Regions from separate parts of the Homo sapiens genome. Here all the other regions are linked to region 3. Evidence: fine-mapped expression QTL. A gene starts in region 3. Each other region holds a variant in brackets. All regions are shown on one strand. Distances are between the middles of the regions. Region 1 has its middle 49 kb from the start of RHOU. Region 2 holds the start of LOC124904538 (a long non-coding RNA gene). Region 3 holds the start of TRIM11 (tripartite motif containing 11).

What was found. PIP is the estimated chance that this variant, and not a neighbour inherited with it, causes the effect.
Region 1: its variant is fine-mapped to the expression of TRIM11 in whole blood (TOPMed, PIP 0.92).
Region 2: its variant is fine-mapped to the expression of TRIM11 in whole blood (INTERVAL, PIP 0.99).

What each region holds. Positions count from the first base shown.
Region 1 is chr1:228,681,847-228,691,833 of GRCh38, reverse strand. It overlaps a transcript of RHOU not described here and the pseudogene FTH1P2. Among named protein-coding and RNA genes, the nearest start is that of RHOU, 49 kb to the left of the region's middle. RefSeq lists an enhancer at 9,417-9,917. The variant A/C (reference allele first, on the strand shown) is at 5,054.
Region 2 is chr1:228,441,745-228,451,731 of GRCh38, reverse strand. LOC124904538 (a long non-coding RNA gene) reads left to right here and starts at 6,700. Exons shown (of 2, transcript XR_007066919.1): 1 at 6,700-9,975. It also overlaps the pseudogene RPL23AP15. The variant CGGGT/T (reference allele first, on the strand shown) is at 5,351.
Region 3 is chr1:228,402,518-228,412,504 of GRCh38, reverse strand. TRIM11 (tripartite motif containing 11) reads left to right here and starts at 5,670. Exons shown (of 6, transcript NM_145214.3): 1 at 5,670-6,351. The coding sequence starts at 5,944. TRIM17 (tripartite motif containing 17) reads left to right here. Exons shown (of 7, transcript NM_016102.4): 4 at 1,329-1,559; 5 at 3,094-3,116; 6 at 3,230-3,333; 7 at 3,754-4,570. The coding sequence ends at 4,304. LOC124904537 (a long non-coding RNA gene) reads right to left here and starts at 3,234. Exons shown (of 2, transcript XR_007066918.1): 1 at 2,771-3,234; 2 at 1-1,820. RefSeq lists enhancers at 4,108-4,767, 4,959-5,008 and silencers at 5,359-5,428, 5,569-5,658, 5,719-5,958.

The DNA of each region.
Region 1 (9,987 bases), 280 kb before region 3:
TAGCAGAAACTAGATTTATAGCTGTACTGTTTGGGTCAAATTTTACCCACTGTTCTTAGATACTGAGGATTAAGGATGAAAAATTATAGCCTGCAAAACTTATGTCCACACAAAATCTGTACATAGATATTCATAGAAGCTTTATTCATAATTGCCAAAACTTGGAAATTACTAAGATGTCCTTCAGTAGGTGAATGGATAAGTAAACTGTGGTACATCCTGAATATCATTCATCACTAAAAGGAAATAAGCTATTGAGCCTCTACAAGACATGAAGAACCTTAAATGCATGAAAGAAGCCAATCTGAAAAGGCCACACACTATAAGATTCCAAGTATATGCTATTCTGAAAAAGACAAAACTATGGAAACAATAAAAAGATCAGTGGTTGCCAGGAGTTGGAGGGAGGGAGGGAGGGAGGGAGGGATGAGTGAGTGGAGCACAGATGACTTTTAGGCCAGTGAAACTCCTCTGTGTGATACCGTAGTGGTGGAAACATGTCCTTACACATTTGTCAAAACCCATAAAATGTACAACACTAAGAGTGAACCTTAATGTAAACTACAGACTGGTGATAATGATGTGTCAATATAGATTTATTGATTGTAACAAACGTACTACTCTGTAGGAAATGCTGATAGTGAGGGAGGCCTGGAAAGAGGATATGGGAACTCTCTGCATTTTCTGTTCAATTTTCTGGGAACCTAAAGAGGTTTTGAAAAATAAAGTCTATTTAAAAAAAAAAAAATTATAAGCTGAATCCTCGCAGTTAATTTAGCTTCTTTCACAACCAAACTTTTACAAGTAACTGAGTTAAGTCGTTTCCTCCCTAATTTGAAGGCACTATTAATGACAACATAAAAGCACAAAACACAGTACTTAAGCACTATGTGATACACTCTTTTAAAACTAATCTTCCACCATGCACGGAGGCTCACGCCTGTAATCTCAGCACTTTGGGAGGCCGAGGAGGTCAGATCATGAGGTCAAGAGTTCGAGACCAGCCTGCCCAACATGGTGAAACCGCGTCTCTACTAAAAGTAAAAAAATTAGCCAGGCTATGTGGTGGGCGCCTGTAATCTCAGCTGCTCGGGAGACTGAGGCAGAAGAATCGCTTGAAATCAGAAGGCAAAGGTTTCAGTGAGCCGAGATCACGCCACTGCACTCCAGCCTGGGCAAAAGAGCAAAACTCCATCTCAAAAAAAACCAAACAGCCGGGCCTGGTGGCTCACGCCTGTAATCCCAGCACTTTGGGAGGCCAAGGCGGGCGGATCAGCTGAGGTCAGGAGTTCGAGACCAGCCTCAATATGGAGAAACCCCGTCTCTACTAAAAATACAAAATTAGCCAGGCGTGGTGGTGCATGCCTGTAATCCCAGCTACTCAGGAGGCTGAGGCAGGAGAATTGCTTGAACCTGGGAGGCGGAGGTTGCGGTGAGCCGAGATCATGCCATTGCACTCCAGCCTGGGAAACAAGAGCAAAACTCCATCTCAAAGAGAAAAAAAAAAAACAAACAAACTAATCTTCAGCATTTGGTCTCTCAAGTTGCCCACTTGGCCCTCTTTCAAGTGTACCTTCCTTCCTTTTCTTCCTTTCCTTACTTCTCTAAAGCTTTTTAATAAACTTTCACTCCTGCTCTAAAAAACAAAAACAAACAAACAAACAAAACAAATCTTTTAAATAAAAATCAGTCTGATCAAAGAAAATTACAGCAAGTAGTACAGAGAGGTAGCTCTTTAACACTTAGTAAATGTCTTAAGTGTATTGTTTGGGGGAAAGGACACATTGAAACAGCGTTAAGAATTGATTCTGCGTGCTCCAATTACATTTTTTTTAAATTCCGGTTTCAGGCACACTGGAAAGTGTGGGAAGAGAAAGTTCTTGCTGAAATTTTGATTAAATTTTCAGTCTCAGGAGACTGACCCAAACATTTCATGGTTCACAGATGGCTTATAACAGTGGTTCCCAACATTTTTGTTGCCAGGGACCAGTTTCGTGGAAGACAATTTTTCCACGAACTAGGGGTGGTAGGGATGGTTTCGGTATGAAACTGTTCCATCTCAGATCATCAGGCATTAGTTAGATTATCATTAAGAGCCAGCACCCTAGATCCCTCACATGCACAGTTCACAATAGGGTTTGAGCTCCTGTGAGACTAATATCACTGCTGATCTGACAGGAGGCGGAGCTCAGGTGGTAATGCTCACCCACTGCTCACCTCCGGCTATGCAGCCTGGTTGCTAACAGACCACAGACCAGCACCTGTCTGCAGCCCAGGAGTTGGGGACCCCTGGCTTAAAACAAAGTAGTCAAGTGATTGCATATTCATTTGTAGCCCTGAAATGACAACAAAATAGAGCAGCACTACAGTCAGCAGACAGTTTCCATAGGGATCAACAGGCAGATTCAGCTTGATTACAGCTACTGATGTCATGGAAGTATCATGTCCCAATCGCGTTTCTCACTGCTGACTTTATTACACATTTGCTGGGCCCTATCTGGATCCAGAAGTTCCAATGGCCTTTGGATTTACCCTTTCACATTGTCTGGCTTCTACTACAGATTACATATGACCTCTTTTGTTTGACTCTTCGGCTTCTTCGAGGGTTGGGTCTGACAAACTCAGGGTCCTTTGCCTCTCATGTTGGAATAAGATGGAAAAAACCTACAAAAGCTAGAAGATAGTGGGAAGAGAAGCTCCAAATGTGTGGGTTATTCAGGGATGAGGGAGACGGAAGTGAGGGAAAAGCAGCTTCTGAAGGGACTGTTCAGGCGGAGAAGGAGGAGAGGTCAGTGGTGCCTCTTCCCAAAGTCACTTTAAAATTACTGTCCATTCTGTCTCCCTAGAGCCTCTTCAAAGTGCCACCTTTACTGCTGCCAGTCTCATCTCACACACCCATATGTAGCTTTATATTTGTTTCTCTGTTTGAAAATCAGAAGGGAGGCTGAGGTCTTTGGACACACTCAGCTAAACTGACAAATCCAGCTGACCTGCAAGGACCACAGTGACACTGAGAGAATTCTACCTGCGCTGGTGACCTGTTCATTCTGCTTGACCAGGGAAGCAGAGAAAAGCACCATTTTGGACAAATACTGAAAGGCAGTACCAATCCTGGGACTTCTTGGTGTTTTGTACATAACTTTTGGTATCAGCACACACAGCACTTTACAACTGGCCATGGCCAGGCTCAGCAGAACTAATTCATGAGCCTGGGCTAGAACACAAATCAGCAGGAAGGTTTGCAGGAAAGGCACGATTCCCCACACTGGGTGGACTCCCTTGTTTAAGTGACAGCAGGCAGACATGGGAGGAATGGAAGGAGGGGTTAAATAATAGAGCACGATGCTAAGGAGGTCAAAATGGGAGATTTGCAACCCAAATGCCCTGGAAATCTGCTCCATTCTATGGCTGCAGTCCACATTTCTCAGTCCATAGGCTGCCAACTCACAAATGTCTGCTGTTCTTCACACATGAAAGAGGCAGTGGAAGGATTCGGGGGAAACCTGTGTCAGCTACAGAGAAAAAATTCATGTTCATGTCCTTTAGACAGCAGCTTAACAACATTAACAACATGGCCTTCTTCAAAAGGCAGTGGGAGGCATGAGTGGAGAGCTGTAACAGGTTAGGGTTGGTTCCAGCTACAGTTCCAGAAAACCCCAAGTCACAATAGCTCATCTTCATGGAGCATGTACTGTTAACCAGGCACTGTCCTAGACACCTGGGACCCATCCGTGAACAACAAACAAACAAACAAACAAAATCCTTGCTCTTGTACAGCTCACATTTTGTGGGGTGAGGGTGGGGTGGAAACAATACTCAAATGAAAGGAAGGAAGAAAGGAAGGAAGGGAGGGAGGGAGGGAGGGAGGAAGGACAGAAGGAAGGAAGGGACAGAGGGAGGGAGATGGAGCAGAGGAGGGAGAGGGGGAGAACAATATGTTAGAAAGGGATAACTCTTGGTGACCAGGGAAGTCACTCCCACGGCTATGTGGAAATTAGCCTGAGGCTTAGCTTTCATTATCACTGTCCCCCAGGGTGTGCTTGTCTAAGAGGTATTCCGCCGAGCCAGATTCGGGCGCTCCCATCTTGCACAAGTTGGTCACGTGCTCACCCAATTCTTTGATGGCTTTCACCTGCTTATTCAGGTAATGTGTCTCAATGAAGTCACACAAATGGGGGTCATTTTTGTCAGTGGCCAGTTTGTGCAGTTCCAGTAGTGACTGATTCACACTTTTTTCCAAATGTAATGCACACTCCATCGCATTCAGCCCGCTCTCCCAGTCATCACAGTCTGGTTTCTTGATATCCTGAAGGAAGATTCGGCCACCTCGTTGGTTCTGCAGCTTCATCAGTTTCTCAGCATGTTCCCTCTCCTCATGAGATTGGTGAAGAAAGTATTTGGCAAAGTTCTTCAAGGCAGTGCATGCATGTTGGGGTTTCCTTTACCTTTTCTATAAGTTGTACCAAAACATCCACTTAAGTTCGTTGATTTGTACCATTCCTTCAAATAAAGAAATTTGGTAACCAAAAAAAAAAGAAAGGGATAACTCTTGGGAACTGGGGAATAGAGAGAAGAGTACAGAGGGGAGGGACAGTCACGCTGAGGTGGGTGAGCACTCCCGCAAGTCTGGGTGGAGGCAGTGCCGGTCAGTGGAGCGGGCCAGTGAAGCCCACAGGTGCTTTCAGAGGAGTAAACAATTGTTCACTCAAATAGTGGAAAATGAGTTTTGTGTACTCTATCCCCTACTAGTCAGCTCACTATAATTTTTTATAATTCCTTAAATTCTCCCTTGCCGGCCAGGCACGGTGGCTCACGCATGTAATCCTAGCACTTTGGGAGGCTGAGAAGGGTGAATCACCTAAGGTCAGGAGTTCGAGACCAGCCTGGCCAACATGGTGAAATCCCCTCTCTACTAAAAATACAAAAATCAGCTAGATGTGGTGGTACACACCTGTAATCCCAGCTATTGGGAGGCTGAGGCAGGAGAATCACTTGAACCCTGGAAGCGGAGGTTGCAGTGAGCCAAGATCACGCCACTGCACTCCAGCCTGAG[A/C]GACAGAGGAAGACTCCCTCTCAAAAAAAAATTCTCCCTTGCTTTTTGGTTGGGATTATCAAGGCTTTAAAAGTTAGGAATTTAACATTTTAAGAGCTGACTCTGTTGCCAGACCAGACCTTTAAAAAGCCATTGCTTTTCATAGCAAAAACCGCAATGAGTTTTGCACCGACCCAATACTAAAAGAGGGCAAGTGCTCACCATGGCTTGCACTAAATATCAGTTGTCTCATGGTGTAGGAGAGTATTCCTCTAGATTTCTGAAACTGAAATTCAGAAATATATTGTCAAACATAATAGGTTTTAAACTGCAAATATGTAATTATTGTATTTTATATATTTTTATTGTTTTATTGCCATTTTAGAAATTTTAAGCATACAATTCAATGGCATTAATTATATTCATAATGTTGTACAACTATCACCACTATTTCCAAAATATTTCATCTCCTCAAACAGAAACTCTTTATTATAATAATATTAGTTAATAAAACACATTGAGTAACTACAAAGTACTAATCACTATATAGCTATTGTTTCATTTAAATATCATAGAAACCTCATGAGTTAGTTATTTTTATTTTATTCATGAAGAAGTTGAAGATAAGGGAGATTTAACTAATTCCTCTAAATCTAATAAGTAGCAAAATTATAACTAAAACTCAAATATAACACAACCCTATAAGCAAGTCAGATTTTGGGGTCAATGGACTAATACAAAAGTCTGATCACTAACTTACATTGTGTTTCCTCTTAATGGTTTTATTTCATCTTCATATAATAAGATGTCAAAGTGTAAAACTCTGATCTTATAAACTCTGATCAGAATAAAATTACTAAGATTCTTGGCTTTAAAAATGCTTCCATTTACAGATTCTTTTAATAATAGCTCTGGGGATAATTAAGGGTTGCACTAGATTAACTCTTGAAGAGAAAGGAGTCGGTAGACAAAAAAGTTCTGAGTGTCAAATGCTACTGATTAAGGGTTTCACTAAAGGAGAACAAAGAGGTTTTTCAATTAGAATGTAAGTCAATGAGAAGATTAATTTTGATTAACAGAAATACATTTAACCTATATATAATTTTAACAGGAAGATATATATTCACATACAGTCATTTCATGAGTCTCTGAATACTTTAGTTATCTTCTAAAACTCTCAAATTCCCCAGTAAATTCTCAGAGCAGTATCCTATCATTCTCTGGCTCCAAATGCTCAATAGATTTCCATTTTAATTTTTCACAGAATCAACCATCCAGAGAATGGTGCTCCATTTGGTTCCAGTTTTGTTTCTCCTAATTTCCCTTTGTGGTCATTTCTCTTTACAGCATTTGCTCTCTTTCTAGTCTCTCACTCTGAGTTTCAGTTTCCAAGTATTTGTTAAAACTCATTCCCAAATTCCTACTGTCAGAGGCATTGGAACCAGAGCAACTCCATCTTAATAGAGGCTGGGTAAAATAAGGCTGAGGCCTACTGGGCTGCATTCCCAGACACTTAAGGCATTCTAAGTCACAGGATGAGATAAGAAGTCAGCACAAGATACAGGTCATAAAGACCTTGCTGACAGAACAGACTGCAGTAAAGAAGCCAGCCAAAACCCACCAATACCAAGATGGCAATGAGAGTGACCTCTGGTCATCCTCACTGCTACGCTCCTACCAGCACCATGGCAGTTTACAAATGTCATGGCAATGTCAGGAAGTTACCCTATATAGCCTAAAAATGGGAGACATAAATAATGCACCCGTTGTTTAGAATATCATCAAAAAATAACCATAGAAATAGGCAACCAGCAGCTCTCGGAGTAGCTGGTCTGCTCTGTCTATGGAGTAGCCGTTCTTTTATTCCTCCACTTTCCTAGTAAACTTGCTTTCACTTTACAAACTCGTCCTGAATTCTTTCTTACACAAGATCAAGAACACTCTCTTAGGGTCTGAGCTATTATCGGGACCGTTTCCTGGAACAGCACCACGTTCCCTTTTGGTCTGCAAGCCAGAAACTGGAAGTCATCCTTGTGGTTCCTTCTCCCTCACCCTCACAACTACTCTATTACCAGAGCCTGCATGTTTTTTCCTGCCTTATGGGGGTGGCTGCAAAATCTAGCACCCAAACAGGAACGATTCTGAGAGTGAAAAGGACTAATATTAACAGTTATGTCAGCAGGGCACAGTAGATCACGCCTGTAATCCCAATACTTAGGCCGAGACACGTGGATCACTTGAGCCCAGGAGTTCAAAACTAGCCTGGCCAACATGGCAAAACACCATTTCTACAAAAAATACAAAAATTAGCCGGGCATGGTGGTGCACGCCTGTAGTCCCAGCTACTCAGGGGGCTGCGGTGGAAGGATCACTTTAGCCCAGGAGGTGGAGGTTGCAATGTGCCAGATCTTGCCACTGCACTCCAGCCTGGATGACACATGAGACCTAGTCTCAAAAAACAAACTGGCCAGGCGCAGTGGCTCACATGGGTAATCTCAGCACAGTGGGAGGCTGAGGCGGGAGGATCACCTGAGGTCAGCAGTTCAAGACCAGCCTGGCCATCAGGGTGAAACCCTATCGCTACTAAAAATACAAAAATTAGACCATCATGGTGGCACACACCTGTAATCCCAGCTATCAGGAGGCTGAGGCAGGAGAATTGCTTGAACCTGGGAGCTGGAGGTTGCAGTGAGCCGAGATCATGCCACTGCACTCCAGCCTGGGCGACAGAGCAAGACTCCGTCTCAAAAAGAAAGAAAGAAACAAACAAAAACCAGTCTTCAACCACAGGCATACGCTGGGATTCTATGATCTCCAAGTCCACAGATCCTCAGTTTTCTCCATGTCCATAGTTTCTGACCCATCATTCCAATTGTCTTCTAAGGATCTGGTTCTCATGGAGGCACACCTACCCTGACCCCTCTCCCTCCCATGCTGCACAGGCAGCCAGACACGGGGATCTTTTCAAAATGTCAACGTGGGGAAATCCATCTTGCCCACCCCCACCGCACAGTTTCTTAGGACCTCCTGAAACCGTGCAACTCTGGCTGCCATCACTCATATTGGCTCAGAATAAACCTCTTTAAAAATATTTTGGAAAAATTTGGATTTTGCCATCATCAATTACAATTTGTTAAAGAGTGTCCTTGTTATAGAAATTTTTTAAATTATGCTGTCAGCAAATTTGTCTATTTTTTCCTTTATGGATTTTGTGGGGGTTTTTTCTTTAAGTAGACATTCATTAAATCAAGAACTCAAAAACATTTTCCTCTATCATTTTAGTATATTTCCCAAATGGAAAATTTGTTGTTCCAACATCACTGATTGGATAATTTATCCCACATATATCATATGTAAAATCTCAATATCTACCTGATCCTATCTCCTAAGTAAGCTCCATCGATGTATTTGGCTATTCCCACAATAGTACCACCAAATAAACTTCATATTTCTCCTTCTCCCTTTCCAGAATGCAAACAGGATGCTAGGGGTGAAATGCCTGTCCTGTGACCAGAAGACAATAGGGTGGAAGACAGGTGGACCGGTTGCCTCTGTGGCTATCAGATAATGCCTCCTTCAAACCATGATTAGGTCAGTGGCTGCCTATGGGGTTTTCAGTGACTCAGAACCGAGTTAAAATCTTAACTGGTACAAGATCTGTCAGGTGTAGTTGACTCCAGCCCAGATCCCAAGGGTGGCAATTTCTTCTGGGCATTCAACTCAACAAGGATTGATTCACTTACTGAAATTAGTGGTTGAGAAACAGTTAACATCCTCTCCTAATGAGCTTAACCAGAAGATATACAGTATGGGGCTCATGGGGCTGCCTTTTGCCTTTGAGAAAAGTCAAAGCACCATGGGGCTACTTCACTCCACTCACCCCCACATCTCCATTGCTCTGACTCAACCTCTCTGTGTCTTATCTGAGATTTCAGTGTCAGATTTGAGTGACATCCAACTCCCTTCCCATACTCCCTTTAGAATTACAAGTAAATTTACTGATATTTATATAAGTGGCAATGACGATGGATGGTGGTGGGTCCGGTTTTCTGTTTCTATGTTGTGAGGTTTTTATTTGTGTTTCTATTGATCTGCCTTTTCCTCTTTACTCAACATTATGATTTGTTTCTGCCCCACCCTAACTGATCAACGTACTTTGTAATCTCCACCACCCTTAAGAAGTTTCTTTGCAATCTCCCCCACCCTTGAGAAGATTCTTTGTAATTCTCCCCACCCTTGAGATGTACTTTGTGAGATCCACCCCCTGCCTGGAAAACATTGCTCCTAACTCCACCGCCTATCCCAAAACCTGCAAGAACTAATGATAATCCCACCACCCTTTGCTGACTCTCTTTTTGGACTCAGCCCACCTACACCCAGGTGAAATAAACAGCCTTGTTGCTCACACAAAGCCTGTTTGGTGGTCTCTTCACACAGAAGCATGAGACATTTGGTGCTGAAGACCCGGGTCAGAGGGACTCCTTCGGGAGACCAGTCCCCTGTCCTCACCCTCACTCCGTGAAGAGATCCACCTATGACGTCAGGTCCTCAGACCAACCAGCCCAAGGAATATCTCACCAATTTCAAATCGGGTAAACAGTCTTTTCACTCTCTTCTCCAGCCTCTCTCCCTACCCTTCAATCTCCCTGTCCTTCCAAGTCCAGTTATTTTTCCTCTCTAATAGAGACAAACGAGACACATTTTATCCATGGACCCAAAACTCTGGCGCCAGTCACCAACTTAGGAAGACAGCCTACCCTTGGTGTTTAATCATTGCAGGGTGTGCCTGCTTGATTATTCACCCACACCCCATTGGTGTCTGATCACCACGGGGATGCCTGCCTTGGTCATTCACCCACATTCCCTTGGTGGCAAGTCAATTGTGGGGACACCTGCTTTGGCTGCTCACCCACATTGCAGCCCAGGACTGCTCCCCACCCCGCTTCTCCGTGTCT
Region 2 (9,987 bases), 39 kb before region 3:
GGATCACTAAATACATAGGAGGATATAAATATTAATGATCACGAAATAGGCCGGGGCGGTGGCTCACACCTGTAATCCTAGCACTTTGGGAGGCCGAGGCGGGCGGGTCACGAGGTCAGCAGATCGAGATCGTGCCATCCTGGCGAACACGGTGAAACCCCATCTCTATTAAAAATACAAAAAAATTAGCCAGGTGTGCTGGTGGGTACCTGTAGTCCCAGCTACTCAGAAGGCTGAGGCAGGAGAATGGCATGAACCCGGCGGGCAGAGCTTGCAGTGAGCAGAGATCATGCCACTGCACTCCAGCCCGGGTGACAGAGCGAGACTCAATCTCAAAAAAAAAATGTGTATATATATATATATATATATATATATATATATATATACATACACACACACATATATATACCAGAGACACTAAATATTCAGGATCACTAAACGCATAGGAGGAACTAAATACTAATGATCACAAAATATACAAGAAGCACTAAATATTCAGGATCACTAAATATATTAGAGACGTTGAAAATCCAGGATTGATAAATGTATGAGAGGCACTAAGTGTTCATGATCACTAGGTATACAAAGTGCACATAAATATTCATGGTGACTAGGTGTACAAGACGCACTAAATATTCATGATCACTGACTATACAAGAAGCACTAAATATTCAGGATTGCTAAATTTATGAGAGGTACTGAATACTTATGACCACTATAGATACAAGATGCAGTACGTGTTAGATGTTAATGATCCCTAAGTATACAAGAGGCACTAAATATTAAGATAAATAAACATGAGGCTTAGGTATCTAGGATGACTAGATATGCAAGAGGCACTAAATATTCAGGACAACGCTAAGTATACAATAGGCACTGAATATTCAGGATACGCTAAACAGGCCTGGCTCATTTGAGGCACTCCCGTTGGGATCACCATTCCAGCCCACCTTTCTCTGCAGCGTGGCCAGGACATCCTGTGTCTCAGTGGCCACACCTGCGTGCCATTGCCCGGCACTCTTGCTCTCGCACCTGAGGCCTGGTCTTCGTAAGTAGGACTTTATCCTGGGAAAAGTCTGACAGCAGAGAGAGACAACACCTATGGACACGTGCACCCAGGATGGAGGGGTGGAGAGGGGTAAGTTGACTCACCTAGTGTAGGTGTGACACTCTTACTCTAAAATTGTCTGTGAGCCCTTCCATGCCACGACCTGTAGCTTCAAGGTGACTTTTCACGAGTCCTCCGGGCACAGCAGCTGTTGGAGGTGACCCCAAGGCAAGGGAGCCCAGACACACTGCTTTCCATCCAATCACCACTTTACCTCCCTTCGTGGCACTGAGTGGGTGACTGTCACGTCACTCCCGCCACAAGCCGAGCTCTGGGAAGGCAGGAGAAACCCCGCCTGGCTGCATTCTCAAGGACACCTGCACAGTGGATCACTACAACCAGTGGGACCGTCCCTGAAGGTGTGCGGGGCAGCATGCTTGTGCATGATAGACTTGCCATCATCACATTTTTTTTTTCGAGACAGCGTCTCAATTTGTTGCCGAGACTGGAGTGCAGTGCAGTGGCAACAATCACAGCTCACTGCTGTCTCAACCTCAAGCAATCCTCCCACCTCAGCCTCCTGAGTAGCTGGGACTACAGGCAGGCTCCCCAAACCTGGGTAGTTTTTTGTATTTTGTAGAGACAGTGGTTTCACCATATTGCCCAGGCTGGTCTCCAACACCTGTGCTCATGCATTCCTCCCGCCTTGGCCTCCCAATTACAGGCATGAGCCATTGTGCCTGGCCCTATCATCACAGTTATAAAACTATCACATTTCCAGCCCCAGGAGCTTTACCCACACAGTCTCAAAGCCCTTGCTTCTTGGAAAACCCCCAGAGGCCTCACAGGGCCCTACAAAGAAAAGCCCCACGCTCTTTGTTGTTGAGAATGCTTTACTGGTCCCTTTTTATTTTTTCCCAGCTTTATTGAGGTACTGTTACCGGAAAGGGGTCTCGATCCAGACCCCAAGAGAGGGTTCTTGGATCTCATACAAGAAAGAATTCAGGGCAAATCCATAAAGTGAAAGCAAGTTTATTAAGAAAGTAAAGGAGCTTTTCACAAGATGGCACTGAAAGCGAAGAAGGAAACTCCTGCCCTTCCTAAAGCCGAAGCCAAAGCAAAGGCTTTGAAGGCCAAGAAGGCAGTGTTGAAAGGTGTCCATAGCCACACACAAAAAAAGAAGATCCGCATGTCACCCACCTTCTGGTGGCCCAAGACACTGTGACTCCGGAGGCAGCCCAAATATCCTGGGCAAATTGTCCCCAACAAGCTTGACCACTGTGCTATCATCAAGTTTCCACTAACCACTGAGTCTGCCATGAAGAAGATAGAAGACAGCAACACACTTGTGATCACTGTGGATGTTAAAGCCAAGAAGCACCAGATCAAACAGGCTGTGAAGAAGCTCTGTGACATTAATGTGGCCAAGGTCAACACCCTGATCAGCCTGATGGAGAGCATATGTTCAACTGGCTCCTGATTACAGTGCTTTGGATGTTACCAACAAAATTGGGATCATCTAAACTGAGTCCAGCTGGCTAATTCTAAATATATGCATATATTTTCACCATTAAAAAAAAAAGGAAGAAAGTGAAGGGATAAAAGAATGGCTACTCCATAGGCAGAGCAGCTCTGAGGGCTACTGGTTGGCCACTTTTATGGTCATTTCTTGATTATATGCTAAACAAGGGGTGAATTATTCATGCGTTTCCCAGGAAAGGGGTGAGCAATTCTTGGACCTGAGGGTTCCTTCCCTTTATAGACCATATAGGGTAACTTCCTGATGTTTCCATGGCATTTGTAAATTGTCATGATGCTGTTGGGAGTATCTTTTACTTATAATTAATGATAATTAATGTATTATAATGAGCAGTGAGGACGACCAGAGGTCACATTAGTCGCCATCTTGGTTTTGGTGGGATTTGGCTGCCTTCTTTACCGCGTGCTGTTTCATTAGCAAGGTCTTTGTGACCTATATCTTGTGCCGACCTCCTATCTCATCCTGTAACTTAGAATGCCTAACCTCCTGGGAATGCAGTCCAGCAGGTCTCAGCCTTATTTTACCCAGCCCCTATTCAAGATGGAGTTGCTCTAACTCAAATGCCTCTGACAGTATGATCTACAAATAAAGCTCGTACATATTCAAGGTGCACAGCATGATGTCTTGGTACATGTCACGTGGTGAAATGATTACCACAGTCAAATCAATTAACACACACATCACCTCATGTGGTTACCTGTGTGTGTGTGCATGTGTCTGTGTGTGCGGTGACAACATGTAAGATCTACTCAGTAAATTTTATGTCCATGATATGTTATTAACCAGAGTCTCCATGCTGTGCTTCAGGTCTCCAGAACTACTTATCTTATAGCTGAAGCTTTGTACTCCTCCTCACCCAGCCCCTGACTTTTTTAGATTCCATATATAAGTTGGCTCATGCAGTATTATTTGTCTTTCTGTGCCTGGCTTATTTCACTTAGCATAATGTCCTCTGGGTTCATCCATGTTGTTGACATGGTTTCCTTCTTTTTTAGACCTGAATAATTTTCATTATTATAGTGTAGTATAGCATGTAACACTAATATCTATACCACGTTTTCTTTATTCATTCACTGATGGACATTTAGGTTGTTTCTGTATCTCAGCTATTATGAATAGTGCTGTAATTAACATGGGAGTGCAAGTATCTCTTTATGACAGTGATTTTATTTCCATTGGGCATACTCAGAAGTGAGATGGCTGGATCAACAAAATTAAAAGGCAACCTATGGATGGGTGAAAACATTTGCAAACCAAACATCTGGTAAGGGGTTAATACCCAAAATATATAAGAGCTCCTACAACTTATTAGCAAAAAACAAAACCAAAACAAGAACCAAATAACCTAACTTTAAAAATAGACAAAGGACCTAAATAGGCATTTCTCCCAAGAAGGCATACATATGGCCAACAGGCATATGAATAGGTGTTCAACATTACTAATCTAGGAGGGTCGGTAGGGTGGCTCATGCCTCTAATCCCAGAGCCTAAGGTGGGAGGATTGCTAGAGCCCAGGCTTTGGAGACCAGCCTGGGCAACATAGGAAGACTCCGTCTGTACAAAAAATTTTTAAAAATCAGCGGGGCGTGGTCGTTCCTGAGGTCCCATCTAGTCCAGAGGCTGAGGCGGGAGTATCCCTCGAGCCCGGGAAGTCTAGGTTGCAGTGAGCCGAGATTGCACCACTGCACTCCAGCCTGGGCCACAGAGGGAGACCCTGTCGCAAAAAATAAATAAATAAATAAAATTCAGGAAAATGCAAATCAGAATCAGAATGAAATGTCTCCGAACACCTGTTAGAATGGCTAATATCAAAAAGACAAGAGACAACAAGTGTTGGTCACGATGTGGAGAAAAGGGACCCTTCGCACGCTGTTGAGGGGAATGTAAACTGGTGCAGCCATCACGGAAAATAGGACGGAGGTTCCTCCAAAAACTCAAAACAAGGTCCAGTCTTTCTGAGGCCCCCTTCTGCTTGCCTGTGACCACCCTTCTTCCAACCCTCCAGTTCCAGGTCCCCTCTGCTGCCCTTAGACGCGGCGTCTTCGCACTCTGGGCCTTACCGCGGCTGCTCCTCCAGGTTTGCTCTCCAACTGCAGCCTTCCCTGTCCTACGCGACCACCGGCCTCCTGGCGCCCTCTGCCTATAGTGAACACCCCTCCAACACCGTGCCATCACCTCACGTTTACTCTCACCTCCTCCTCCACTAAATTGCAAGCTCCAGGGAGGCATGTTTTCATCTGATGCGTTCACCCCAAGTACTAACAGCTATGCCTGGCACATAGTAGATGCTAAATGGATATTTGATGAACTTAAAAAAAAAATTCAAAGGATTCCTTTCCTCTCTGGTCAATGGAAGACGGAGAAGGAATGAAATTGAACTTCAATAGCTTAACAAAGGGCGGGAGGGTGGTGTGTTGACCGCCCCCCCAACCCCCCAACGCTGGGCCCCAACCCACCCCGCCCCGCCCCCACGGGATGCTTTTCTACAAGGGTGAGAGGAGCTGACTCCGGTTTGGACTGGAAGAAAGTTTCCAAGAAAATCAAATTAGTGGCCCAAACACATACCCCTTCTCCGCCCCGCGCAGTCTCTGAGATGCGTCCCAGCAATTGCCCAGGGACTTGGAGGGAGCGGGCATTTTCAGGCTGCACAGAGGCCATCTGGGGAGAAGGTGTGCGGCTGTTTTGCTGAAATGTAAAAAGAGATGTCCTTTGGAGCCCGGGACGCCGTTTCCGGCTGGCTACCCGAGGTTGCGTGCAAGGGG[CGGGT/T]CCTTAGGCATGAAAATGACCCTCCCGGCCGCAACGGCGCACAGGCCCAGGGCCGCTGAGCCCCTCCAAGCCGGGATTCGTTTTGGAGACCTGCGCGATGGAGCGGACAGCGGGACTGGGGGGCGCCGCAGTGCAGGGTGTACAGCTGCAGAGAAGCCGGGGATACAGGGGTGCGGGGCGCAGGGATAACGGGCGCAGGGGACGGTCACGGGTGCTTTCTAGTGGGTTGTGCAGGCTCAGGTTCCCAGCGCTGGGTGGTTGCGACTCTGCATAAAACGCTAAGCTTTTGAGGCCCTTATTCAAGCTCGGGGACGTCTCCCAGTTGGTCAGTTCAAAACCTCTGGGCCAGGTTGCGTTGGTGGCAGATTCCGCCCGCTAAGTCTCCGCACGCTGCCGCGGGTCTGCTCCTCCCCCGGGGTCAGAACCTCTGACGCTCTCCTGCTTTTACACGCGTTAAGTCACTGGTTTCTTGCAGCATCACGTGTTCCCTAGATACATGGGCTGAGGCTTATTCTTCCTGAAAGTGAGGGTTTTTTCCTTTGGGCTTTCCAGAGCCAGCCCGCGTGGAGAGTGACGAGTGACAGGCGCCTTTGTTCCGGGCTTGCATGGGTGGGACGCGCCCCCTCCTCAGCACTCAGCCCGGCGAGCCTGGCCCTCCCGTCGCCCCTTCTTAAGTGCATTTGTCCCGGGCTCTCGATTTTGTTTACTCTTTCCTGCTTACACAGGTACACACACACACCCAGACCTAAACTTTATATAAACAGACATGAACTTAAAGAAACAAAATCCCCCTATGTGTCAACGCGCTCCTTTTTAACAAAATCAACAAAAATTCAACACAATGTTATTTCCATCCTTTTGTTGTCTTATTAGAAACGTGTATGTTAACTTTCCTCCTTTTATAAATGGGGCATGTTCTAATTAACCATTTGTATGGTTGTTTTTAGTGCTCAAATGGTCACATTGCAGCCCCGGGGAGGTATTTTCAAAACGCTGCTCTGTCATTTTAGGATCACCCTGATTGTTGGAAGCACCTTTGCTTTTGTTTTTGTTTTGTTTTTGTTTTGCTGAGACGGGGTCTAGCTCTGCCGCCTAATCAGGCTCACTGTGGCTTCAAAACTCCTGGCTCAAGCAATCCTCCCGCCTCAGCCTCCCAAGTAGCTGGTACTACAGGTGAGTACCACAGCGCCTAATTGGTTTTTTGTTTTGTGTGTGTGTGCGTGTTTTTGGTTTTTTTTGTTTGTTTGTTTTTGTTTTTGTTTTGTTTTGTTTTGTAGGCAGGTTCTCCCTATATTGCCCAGGATGGCCTTGAACTCTAACCTCGGCCTCCCAAAGTGCTGGGATTACAGGTGTGAGCCACTGGCACCCGGCTCATCTTTGCTTTCTGACAGCAAAAAGTTATTTCAGACCTATCATGGGTGTTTTGTTTTGTTTTGAATTTTTGTTTTTTTGACTCCAGATATGGACTTAACTGCACTCCAAGGAGTTTATGTTGCTCTTCATGAAAATTAGTATTATAGACAAAATTGAAGCTGGGAATCAGCTACTTTTGTCTCTCATTTTCACTGTTCTCTTTTTTTTTTAGATGGAGTCTCACCCTGTCCCCCAGGCTGGAGTGCAATGGTGCGATCTCGGCTCACTGCAACCTCTGCCTCCTGGGTTCAAGCGATTCTCCTGCCTCAGCCTCCCAAGTAGCTGGGAGTACAGGCGCTGCGTCACCATGCCTGGCTAATTTTTTGTATCTTTAGTAGAGATGGGGTTTCACCATGTTGGCCGGGCTGGTCTCGAATCCCTGACCTTGTGATCTGCCCGCCTTGGCCTCCCAAAGTGCTGGGATTACAGGCATGAGCCACCACGCCCGGCCACTGTTCTCTTTTTTTAATGATGGTGTAGCTGTCTACCCTGTGGAGATATATTGATCTTCAAAATCACCGTGATAGTACAGTTATTATGGAAAACATTATTAAATTCAAAATAGAATTCCCAAACGATATAGCAACCCCACTGCTGGGGATATATCTAAAGGAAATGAAATCCGTATCCAGAAGAGAGATCTGCACCATGTTCACTGCAGCACCATTTACAATAACCAAGACATGGAGTTAACCTAAGTATCCATTGTCGGATGAATGAGTAAAGAAAATATGGTACATATGTACAATGAAATACTATTCCGGCCTTAAAACATAATGAAATTCCCTCATTTGTGACAACAGGGGTGAAATGAGAACATTACGTTAAGTGAAATTAGCCAGATATGGAAAGACAAACACTGCATAATCTCACTTCTATGCGGAATCTAAAGAGGTTGATATCATAAAGCAGAGAGTGGAATGATGGTCACCAGGATCTGGGGGCCAGAGACGCTGACTAAAGGGCACAGGAGGGGGCTAGGGCACGCTGACACAGGAGGAGTCAGTTCAAGACATCTAATGTACAACACAATGACTATAATTCACAGCAATGTAGTACATGAAAATTGCTAAGAGAGTAGATTTTAGGTGTTCTCACCACAAATAAATATGTGAGGTAATGTCTATGTTAATTAGCTTGATTTAGCCATTCCCCAATCCATATTCCCAACACAATACATATTTCAAAACAGTACCTTGTACACCATATATACAATTTTTGTCAGTTTAAAGAAATAAAGAAGAAAAAAAGTCACCATGATCATTGGTAGTCCTTCCATGATAATGCTGATGCCTCATCCTCAAGTGAGGACATTTGTCTCAGTCACTTCAAGCTGCTATGACAAAACACCAGAGACTGAGCAATTTGTAGACAATAGAATTTTTGATCACAGTCTGGAGGCTGAAAGTTCAAGATGAAGGTGTCAGCAGGGCTGGGGTCTGGTGAGGGTCCTCTTCTGGGCTGTAGAGTGCAGTCTTGTGGTTGCAACCTCATGTGATGGAAGGGGTGAGGCAGCTCTCTGGAGTCCATTTTACAGTGGCCCTAATCCCATCAGTGAGGGCTCCACCTTGATGACCTAATTATCTCCCCAAGGCCCCACCTCCTATGCCATCCTCACATTGAGGGTTGGGGCTTCCACAGATGAGTTTGGGCTGGGGACACAAATGTTACCCGAAAGGGGTCCCAGTCCAAACCCCAAAAAAGGGTTCTTGGATCTGGTGCAAGAAAGAATTTGAGGCAAATCCATAAAGTGAAAGCAAGTTTATTAAGAAAGTAAAGGAATAAAAAATGACTAATCCATAGGCAGAGCAGTGGCATGGTGCGCTGGTTGCCCATTTTTATGTTTATTTCTTGATTATATGCTAAATAAGGTGGGGATTATTCATGAGTCTCCCAGGAAAGGTGTGGGCAATTCCCAGAGCTGAGGGTTTCTCCTCTTTTTAGACCATATAGGGTAACTTCTGGATGTTGCCATGGCATTTGTAAACTGTCATAGCACTGGTGGGAGTGTAGTGGTGAGGATGACCAGAGGTCACTCTCATCGCCATCTTGGTTTTGGTGGGTTTGGGGCAGCTTGTTTACTGCAACCTGTTTTATGAGCAGCGTCTTTATGACCTGTATCTTGTGCTAACCTCCTGTCTCATCCTGTGACTTAGAATGCCTTAACCTCCTTAATCTCCTGGGAATGCAGCCCAGCAGGTCTCAGCCTTATTTTACCCAGCCCCTATTCAAGATGGAGTTGCTCTGGTTCACACGTCTCTGACACAAACATTTAAGCCAAAGCAACATTGTGGAAAGAAAGGAAAGACATTTCTGAAAACAAATGTGTGGTTCTGCCTGATGGTTCTGGTGAATCTTCCGCACTTGCTATGACAAGAAATTCAAGGAAAATAATAGGTGAGAGTTGTTTTGTGAAAAATGCTGCAACTTTGGCATTGTTGCTACTGCAATTTGGGCCCAGGGTCTTGCAGGTTGGGGTTTCACCCTCCTCATTTCACATAAACCCGGGGCCAGCCTTCACTGGATGCTAATTGGCATATCTACAAATAGGCCAGCCGGTCTGTGTCTCCTGATTTAGAGACTGTAAACTAAAAATAAAATCCTAAGCACCCCTAACCAACTGCACAGACACTCTGTTGGTAAAAGGGACCCCATAGAACCTTAAAAACTGAGTTTCTGGCCATGATAGGGTGGGAGTCAGACACATCTCATTATACCCCTTTCTGTTGAGGTTTAGACACAACTGACAGCATTCATGTTAACATAGAGACAGTCCAGGTGAGGTTAAGAGAATTTTTTAAAAAAACACAGACACAGGATGGAGTCTTTGTGGCAATAAGGTGACAAATTATAAACAAGACCTAAGGGTTAAGTCAGCACCCTACACTTAAAGAATAAACCATGTTTTCACTGCTGCAAGGGTTTTCTTTTACTCCAGCAGCTAACCAAGCACTGGCCTCCAGCTAAGCAACATTAAGACAATTGCAGCTTACCCAGCTCACAGAGGCTGACTCTCCGACCCCCTGCTCCACCAGCCATGATGGCAGCATTCACTGGACAAGACACTGACTTCAAGAGCTTTCTGCTGATGAGAGACCACGACCTTGGGCTAGTCCTGGCCAGTTTACAGACGCTGTGCACTTGAGCACCTTTGAGTCCTGGAAAGACCTAATTGGAATACATTTACATGTGAAGCCTCCACCTCAAGGTAAGCATGCAT
Region 3 (9,987 bases):
ACAGGCGTTAGCCACTGCACCCAGCTAAGAGAAAAGATTTATTTGCAAGGCCACTGAGTGAAGAGGAGGGAGAACAGCTCTTAAACCTGCCTCCCAAGTGATACAGCTTGGGAGTCTTTATGAACTACGGAGGCAGGGTGGTCCAGCAGGCCCATTCTGTGCAGGTGTCGTCGGGGTGCATGGCATTTCACAGGACACAGGTACCAGAAACGGCAGCCTTAGCATGATCTGAGGTTGGAAGTTTTGGCCCTCTCACATCAAAAGGCCACCTCGGGCACTGGGACAGGTCCACTTGAAGGGCAGATGGTCTCAACTGGTTTCAGCTGGACAGGAGCTGCCCCACATTCCTGAAGCGACCAGTCCCATGGTGACCTGTGAATATTATCTATAAAGAGCCAGTGAAGGGTGGGCGTCAGCATTCAGAGGCACAGCCTTCAGCTTCATGGAAAAAGGAAAAACAAAATAACAAAAAGCAATCAGGGCAGGCTGACCTGATCAGTGAACCCCTTGGTTTCATTAGCACCAGTGACTCCATTCTGGTTGGGTCTGGTCTTCTAGGACCCAGCGCAGGAGCCCAGTTCAAAACAGTGGCCCCTGAGGATCACCTGAGCCCAGGAGTCTGAGACAGCAGTGAACCATGATCATGCCACTGAACCCCAGCCTGGGCAACATAGCAAGACCCTGTCTCTACAAAAAAATTAAAAATTAGCTGGGCATGGTGGTGGTGACACATGTCTGTCGTCCCACTTCCTTGGAAGGCTGAGGTGGGAGGGTCACTTGAGGCCAGGAGGTCAAAGTTGCAGTGAGTTGTGGTTGTGCCATTGCACTCCAGCCTGGGCAACAGAGCAAGACCCTGTCCCTACACAAAATTTAAAAACTAGCTGGATGTGGTGGTGCATGCCTGTGGTCCCAGCTACTCAGATGACTTGAGCCCAGGAGGTCAAGGTTGCAATAAGTGCCACTGCATTCCAGCCTGGGCAACTGAGCGAGACCCTGTCTCAAACAAAACAAAACAAAAAACAATGGCCACCCATAAATTTTGTTTAACATGCCCAAGAGGCTTATCTGGGGGTGGACATTCTGAACCTCCTCAGAGCAAGGGTGCATGGGTGTTTGGATGTGTAGAAGTTGCAGTTCGGGGCTCGGAGGGTTACACTCAGTGTATCACAGGATGGCAGAGGTGGGGGCCTCTGTCACAGTTCCTGGTCCCCAACTAAAGCTCCAGTTGCTGGTGATCTTGTGGGTCACCAGGGCCCTGGGGAGAGGTGCCAGCATCCCTGGAGCTGAGCCACCTGCTGGCAACATGCTGGGCTTCTCCACTCCTGCAGGGCAAGGTGAAGGAGCGGAGAGAACGCATTGTGCTGGAGTTTGAGAAGATGAACCTCTACCTGGTGGAAGAAGAGCAGAGGCTCCTCCAGGCTCTGGAGACGGAAGAAGAGGAGACTGCCAGCAGGCTCCGGGAGAGCGTGGCCTGCCTGGACCGGCAGGGTCACTCTCTGGAGCTGCTGCTGCTGCAGCTGGAGGAGCGGAGCACACAGGGGCCCCTCCAGATGCTGCAGGTGAGCCAGTAGGCTTGGCAGGCAGGGTGGGATGTGAGCTCTGACAGGCATGGGCAGGGGGCGCTGGGCTTGGGGAAGAGGCAGCCAACGGGAAAGGGCTGTTAGCTCCCAGTCTGCTAGTCCTGGAGGCTGGGTGGCTGAGGCCAAGGTGCGGGCAGGCCTGGTTCCTCCTGAGCCTCTCTCCTAGGCCTGAAGATGCCGTCTCCTCCCCGCGTCCTCATGGCATCATCTCTCTATGCACGTCTCTGTCCTAATCATCTCCTTGTATAAAGACACCAGTCAGACTGGATTAGGGCCCACCCCAGTGACCTCAACTCCCTCCTTAAAGATGCTATCTCCAAACACAGTCACATTCTGAGGTCCTGAGGGTTCAGGCTTCAACCTGTGAATTAGTGGGGACACAAGTCAGCCCCTTACAGGTTCCAACCTGAGACAGTGTCCCCATTTCCTTCCAAGTCCAGAGAGGTGGCTTGGGACACCTGGCAGCCAGGTGTGGCTTTGGGACAGGGACTCCATGTCTCGGTGTGGAGGAGGTGCACTGTCCCAGGAGTGAGTTGTGTGGCAACGGCAGTGGGGAGGTGAAGCAGCCAGCCTGTCTGCCGGGACCAGCCTGTGTGCCATGGCCCTGGAGAGGGGGCTTGATTACGGCTGATAAGACGCCATCTCTACAAAAACTTAAAAATATTAGCAGGGCATGGTGGCGTGCGCCTGTGGTCCCAGGACTCAGGAGGCTGAGGCAGGAAGACTGCTTGAGCCCGTGAGTTCAAGGCTGTAGTGAGCTATTGCGCCACTGCACTCCACCCTGGGTGATGGTGAGATCACATCTAGGAAAAAAAAAAAAAAGGAAAAGGAAAAACAAAGCAGCCTGTTCACAACCCACTACATTGGTTTGCTGACCAACTGAGGGAAAAGCCCCTGCAGCTGGTAGAAGGGTGCTCCTATGAGCAGAGGGCCAAGCGCGCCACCTGCATGAGAGTCCCTGCCTAGAGTTAGGGTCACGCTCTGGCAACTAGAAATATGGCCTTTGGAAAACAAGTCCCTTGTAGCTTCCAGGCCAGAGAAGTAAACAGTGATCTCTTTAGGGAACTCTGAATCCCTAAAGAGGCTACAGAAAATCCCCAGGTGCCTCAGTCTCTTACCCACCCCCCTCCCTCCCCAAACTGCACCCAATTGCGCCCCCACCCCATTCCTGCTGAGTGGGCTGCACCCACCTGAAATGGGAGAGGAGGGTCAGTGTTGAGTGGCCACTTGCCTGGAAGGGGTCCCTCCGCCTCTCCTGAGTTGCAGGACCTCAGGCGTGTGGCCGTGGGCTGACAGGGTAGCTCAGCTTAGGTGAGGCACTGGGGGCTCTGGTGGTAGTGGGAGCTAGGGCAGTGGGGAAGGCTCAGGAGTGCCATGAAGCTCAATTGTGGGAAGGGAATGCCCAGGGGACAGGATGGGTCTTGCCCTAAGACACGGACAAGAAGGGAGCAGGGACATTGAGGTGAGCCAGGAGCTTGGCTCACTCCCCACCCTCCGTCCCTGTCTTTTGCAGGACATGAAGGAACCCCTGAGCAGGTATGTGGTCCCCTCAGGCAGGGGCGGGGGCAGTGGCAGCGGTGGGCGGGGGGGACAATAAGACTGTCGGGCCAGGGGAGTCAATAAGACTCCCCTGTGTGTGCCCACCGGAGGAAGAACAACGTGAGTGTGCAGTGCCCAGAGGTTGCCCCCCCAACCAGACCCAGGACTGTGTGCAGAGTTCCCGGACAGATTGAAGTGCTAAGAGGCTTTCTAGGTAAGTGGGCACCCAGGGCCAGGACCTCTGACCCAGGATCTCTTGGCGATGCCCCACTGTACCCCCTAGCCTCGGAAGCCACCAATGGGGGGGGTTCTACAAGTGCACTGCCTGGTGACGGTCACTGGCTATTCACTGTGCCTTCGTAGGGCGGCGTTACTGGTGGTTCTAATTCATGGGATGAATCTTGTTGAGTTCCCAGTGGTCTCTCTGCCCAGCCCCCTGTACCTTATTGCCACCAAGGCCCACACACAATTGGTGTGTGGAAGCATCAAGTAACCCCAGATTCACAGCAGGGGAGGCCTCTGCGGAGTTAGGGGACCATTGGCCACATCCACCACTAGGGCCCGGGGACTCCCACCTTTGACCCTGAATGCCCCACACCTCTCCCCATCTCTCCACCACCACGCCCATCTACAGAGGATGTGGTGCCTGATGCCACCTCCGCGTACCCCTACCTCCTCCTGTATGAGAGCCGCCAGAGGCGCTACCTCGGCTCTTCGCCGGAGGGCAGTGGGTTCTGCAGCAAGGACCGATTTGTGGCTTACCCCTGTGCTGTGGGCCAGACGGCCTTCTCCTCTGGGAGGCACTACTGGGAGGTGGGCATGAACATCACCGGGGACGCGTTGTGGGCCCTGGGTGTGTGCAGGGACAACGTGAGCCGGAAAGACAGGGTCCCCAAGTGCCCCGAAAACGGCTTCTGGGTGGTGCAGCTGTCCAAGGGGACCAAGTACTTATCCACCTTCTCTGCCCTAACCCCGGTCATGCTGATGGAGCCTCCCAGCCACATGGGCATCTTCCTGGACTTCGAAGCCGGGGAAGTGTCCTTCTACAGTGTAAGCGATGGGTCCCACCTGCACACCTACTCCCAGGCCACCTTCCCAGGCCCCCTGCAGCCTTTCTTCTGCCTGGGGGCTCCGAAGTCTGGTCAGATGGTCATCTCCACAGTGACCATGTGGGTGAAAGGATAGACACAGACCGGGGGACTCGGGCACTGCTCCTGGCTCTGCAGAAGGTGTGGGCCTTCTGCTTACTGCAGGCCACCTGCCAGGGTTCTCTGGCATCACGCTGGCAGCCATTAGACACACAGGGGGGTTTCTCAAATTCTAAATATAATTGTGATTAGAACTGTCAAACATTAAGAGGGTATACTGACAGATGCTTCCTAGAGGAAACTTTTGAAAGCCCCTGCGTTCTGAGTGGACCGATTTCTAAATCCATACCTACACACCAGGAACAGCGTGGTCACGTTTTTTTTAGCCATGCCCCCACCCCCACTTTGGAATGACAGGAATCTGTGGCTCCCAGCCCCCCCAGGGGTTTAGGTTACTCTGTCAAAGAAGTAGAAATATCCTATGGTGGGGAGGAGCGGGGGTGGTTGCTGTGTCAGGGATGGTCCCAGGCTGCCCATAGAAATGTCCTATGCATCCTATTGGGTCCTTCGATGGGGGAAAATGGGAAAGGCTGAACCCGTAAAAAGCCTCAGAGCTGCCCACCCCCATCCCGTTCGATCCCCAAAGTTGCACGAGCAGGGGCAAAATCCCAAAGAGATTAGGATTTATGTAGGGGCCTCTTTTCCACAGCGCCCTTACCTTTTCCAAGGAACCCCCCACCCACCCCTGCAGGGTCAAGCACTTTAACAGCCTGTGTCAGTCACTAGCAAGGCAGAATTCCAGAGTAAGCGTACTCCTACCTCGACAAAGCCGGAGTGTCTGCGCGAGGGGCTGCCTGGAACAGCATGCCCCTTTGGAGTGGTTCCCGCAGAAAGAATGTGGGCCTCCTGGAGAGCTGGTCCTGGAGGGATGCCCCCGTCCCATCCCCCAACTCCAATCATTCTGACCTTGGCCTGCCAAGGCTGTGAGGGCCGGGCCTTCCGAGGATACCCGCCCTGGGAAGCACGGGCTGAGGGGGTGAGGACGCACTAGGGGTATGGCGAAGGGCTCCAATGCCCCAGGCTGCGGACTCCCTTAGTCCTTGCAGTTGCTTCCGTGTGCCCCGCCCTGAGTCCCCATCCCTCCTTGCCCTGCCCCCTGCTCCATCCCTCCCCTGCGCCCCGCCCCCTGTCCCCATCCCTCCCCTGCGCCCCGCCCCCTGTCCCCATCCCTCCCCTGCGCCTGAGTCCTCCCCAGGGCAGGGGTAAAAGACCTGGCCACAAGAACCGGAGCGGTGGTGACGCCAGGTCAGCAAGTGAAAGCTCTCCAATTCCGTCCCGCCCGCGGGCCGCGTGACTGGCAGCGGCCAATCGGAGGCAAAAGCGGGTTGTTCCAAAAAAAAAAAAAAAAAAAAAAAAAAAAAAAAAAAAACACACAAAACCCACCCAGTCGCTTCCTGCTTCCGCCTCGGCTCCTCTTCCTGCCGGCATCCGGGATCCCTACGTCCCGCGTCCCCCGAGCGCTCGGAGCCTACGCGCCCAGCGCTACCGAAACCCAGAGTCCTGCGCCCTGGAGTCCCCGCGCCCCGGAGCCCGAGCACCCGGGAGTCCCGAGCCTCGCGCCCCGGAGTGCCCGAGCCTGCGCCGCCGCACCCGGATACCCCGCGTCCCCGCGAGCTGCCGAGGCCGCCCGCCGCCGCCCCGCGGACAGTACCGCCTTCCTCCCCTCTGTCCGCGCCATGGCCGCCCCCGACCTGTCCACCAACCTCCAGGAGGAGGCCACCTGCGCCATCTGCCTCGACTACTTCACGGATCCGGTGATGACCGACTGCGGCCACAACTTCTGCCGCGAGTGCATCCGGCGCTGCTGGGGCCAGCCCGAGGGCCCGTACGCGTGCCCCGAGTGCCGCGAGCTGTCCCCGCAGAGGAACCTGCGGCCCAACCGCCCGCTTGCTAAGATGGCCGAGATGGCGCGGCGCCTGCACCCGCCGTCGCCGGTCCCGCAGGGCGTGTGCCCCGCGCACCGCGAGCCACTGGCCGCCTTCTGTGGCGACGAGCTGCGCCTCCTGTGTGCGGCCTGCGAGCGCTCTGGGGAGCACTGGGCGCACCGCGTGCGGCCGCTGCAGGACGCGGCCGAAGACCTCAAGGTGCTCCTGGGCGGGGGTGGCGTGCAGGGGCGTCGGGGAGCCGGGGACTGGGGAGGCCTGGGCGGGTGGGAGGTTTGGGGGACTGCTCCGGGAGTAATCTGTCTCTGTCTAGGGCGGGGAGCTCAGGATGCAGCCTGCTGTGGGCCTGTGAGGGGGGTGTCGCGCAGGGTGGCTGTGGGGGCTCATGACACAGCCTGTTTCAACCAGGCCCCTTGAGGCTGGGACCATGGCCGCCAATGAGACCCTGCTCTCGGGGGTGAGGGGCGTACCTCTCATAGATAGAGGCTAAGAGAGGAAGGTGGAAGGTGGAAGGTGGTGGAGTGGGGGCAAGGAAAATGTGGCCATACCCTGGCCAGCAAGGAGCTGGAATCAGAGGAAAGTGGGAGAACCTCAGAGGTGGCCGATCCTAGATGGACTCCCTGCAGGGACTGTGTTAGCAGGTCAGTACTTAAGTCCTGGGAAAGCCCCAGACTGGGCAGGATGAGGGGGACACAGTCGTTTCCTCTCTAACCTCCCCTCCAGGGCTGCCCTGCATTTCTGGGTGGGGTACTGGGAGCCATCTCTGCCATCTGAGATGCCAGGGCTCAGCCTGCCTTTTCTCCCCTTGTCTTGCTGCTTAAAACCCAAATAAAACCCGAGCTGAAGGGCCTGGGGCACACGTTCCCTGGCCTGCGCTCCCTCCCGCTGTCCTCTTTCCTCGCTGACCTGCTGCAGGTGTGCTCCTGGGAGCCTACGTGTGGGGCAGATGGCAGCATCTTTGGAGCTTTCTTGATTGCACTTTGTGTGTTGCATCATGGTCACTTGTGTGTGCCAGATGAGCAGTTAAGGCAGTGTTAGAATCAGTACTGAGCTTGATCTGTCCCTATCACAGAGCAAACTTCTGGGATACTAGAATAAATCTGAATCTGTCCCCTTCTGCTTTGGATTTTAGCAGAAAGGTGGTTTAGAGCCATATCCGTGGGCTTGTTCAGACACAGATTCATTTGGGTTTTCTTTTCTTTGCCCATGCAGGAATGTCTACACCTGAAACATGTTAGCCCAGCAGAATTACCCTTGTGACACCAATTACCCCAATGGGTGCAGAGAGTGCCCAATAGCTCTATAGAGTTGACTCGATATAGTTTCATGGGATAGCACTTAACCCTTTCTTTTGCAGGTGAAGAAAAAAATTTCCCTCTACCCTGTTAGGTTCAGTGGCTCAGGGCTGCAAATTAAACTGGCACAAGACAAATTAACAGGAAAAAAAATCATACAATTTGATTAATATTTTAAGTTTCACATGCACAAGAACTTCATAGAAAAGCGTATTTCAGCAAAGGTTTGTGAATTGTGGAGAAGTGACTGGACACAGAAATGGGATTGGGCGTCTAGGACTGATAAATTGTGGGAAAGTGACTAGGAAATAGATGGGAAGAATTAACACAAGATAATGGTCATTGTAGTAAGGTCTGTTTAGGCAGAATCATCTCCCAGGATTAGAGTGCCCTCCTCTTCCTGGTAGAGAGAGGGTGCCTTTCTCATGGGGAATGAATACCCTACTTTTAGGCAGATAGGAGTACAGAGAGCTCTTCCTGCATCTGCTTTTACTCAGAATAATTCTTGTACCACAGCGGTATATTTGGGGATGACATCCTGTTCTTCACTGCCTTAGAGCCTAGGTTATGTTAACCACAGCAAACTGCTTTTACCTGCCCCCATGGGCCTAGAAAGCTCAGTCCCACCTATGGGGCTGTGTGTCCACTTGCCAGAGCTGGGGCCCATTAGCTCCATGACAGGTTCACTCCTTGCCTGGCCCTGACCTGGGGTCATGACAGCTGAACAAGCCCCAGGCTGGGTTGCCCCGAGGTGGTAAACAGGGAAGTCCCAGTAAGCTCCAGTTCCAGGAAGCAGCACCATGGGAGAGAGAAGATGGCCCCCAGATCTCTCTGGGTTGTGTGTCAGATGGCACTTGTGTGGGGAGGGGGTTTGCCACAGGAAGGAGGAGGCCAGGGAAGATCCCAGGCCTGCACCAAGCCCCAGCATCCCAGTTCTGACTACACGCAGGGTAAGAGGTTTCTGTTCTGATCTGGCCAGAGACACAAAGATGCAGGTACCTGAAATGCAAGATCTTTGCCATGCTGGGTATGTTGTGCTGCTTTACAGCCCATTCCATCTGATCAAATGCTGTTTGTAACCTTAGTGTTGAAAACTGAAAACGTTGGCCAGGTGTGGTGGCTCACGCCTGTAATCCCAGCAATTTGGGAGGCCGAGGTGGGCGGATCACCTGAGGTCAGGAGTTTGAGACCACCCTGGCCAACATGGTGAAATCCCATCTGTACAAAAAATACAAAAATTAGCTGGGTGTGGTGATGGGCACCTGTAATCCCAGCTACTCAGGGGGCTGAGGCAGAAGAATCACTTGAACACAGGAGGCAGAGGTTGCAGTGAGCCGAGATCGTGCCACTGCACTCCAGCTTGGGGGACAAAGCGAGACTCCGTCTCAAAAAAAGAAAACTGAAAATGTCCCGTAGGGACTGAGGCATTGAGGGAGAAGTGAGAGGCACTGGGCCAAGTGTTTGAGGTGGGGTTGGGGTCACAGGGGCCAGGCCTGAGTTTTCTGGAACAGGTCGGCAGCAGTGAGGAGAGAGGCCTGGGGACAGGGACCGCCATTTGGGGTTCTTGTAGCTCACGTGAGAGCTGAGCCTAGGCAGAGACAGTAAAGCAGTTGGACATGTCCTTGGTGCTCCAGCGGTCTTCCCGAATCGTGAGGCCAAGTGGTGAACTAAAGTGAGCACCTGGAGCCAGGCAGCTGGGCTGAAGTCCTGGCTCTGCTACCGGGGCAGACTTCTGGACCCTCCCAGCACCTCCATCCTTCCAGAGCGTGGATAGCGAGAGATGAGAGCCAAGACTTGGGGTGGCTGAGAAGCAAAGAGGTGTGGCCAGCACAGGGCCCGTTGCTGATAAGGGTGTCAGATGGGGTGGAAGTGAGCAGACCCTTCGAGAAGTGGGTTCAGGGCACCCCAAGCACACACAGTACAGTGAGCTTGTGTACAGGATTTTCACTGCTTCCTGGTATGCACAGCATGAGGAACCGTGGGAATGAGAATTAAGGACCAAGAAAGCAGAATGGAGGTGTACCCATCCTGGAGCTTATTACAGTGATAGCTGATGAAGCTGAAAATGCACAAGGTCCCGAGTGGCTTGGAGAAAAGATAGGGTGGGTAGCCAGGCATGTCTGTCCGTGCTGACTGTCCTACCAAAACACCATGGTTTGCACATGGCAGATGTATACAAGCTGGAGACTCACAGCTCTGGAGGCTGGAAGTCTAAGATCAAGCCCTGGCAGGTTTGGTGTCTGGTGAGGGTGCTTCCTGGTTCACAGACAACACCCTCTCACTGTGTTGTCATATGGTGAAAGGGGCGAGGGTTCCTTTATAACACTAATCCCATTGTGGCGGCACTGCCCTCCTGACCTAGTCACCTCCCAAAGCCCCCGCCTCCTAACATCATCACACTGGGTGTTGGGATTTCAACCTATGAATTTGTGGGGGCATAGGGCAGAATTTTTGGACCCCAGCATAGGCTTGGTCCAAGGCCCTTATGTGAGCCAGCAGGTGAGAAGGAAGAGGAGGAGGAGTAGACACTGGCTTGGGAACA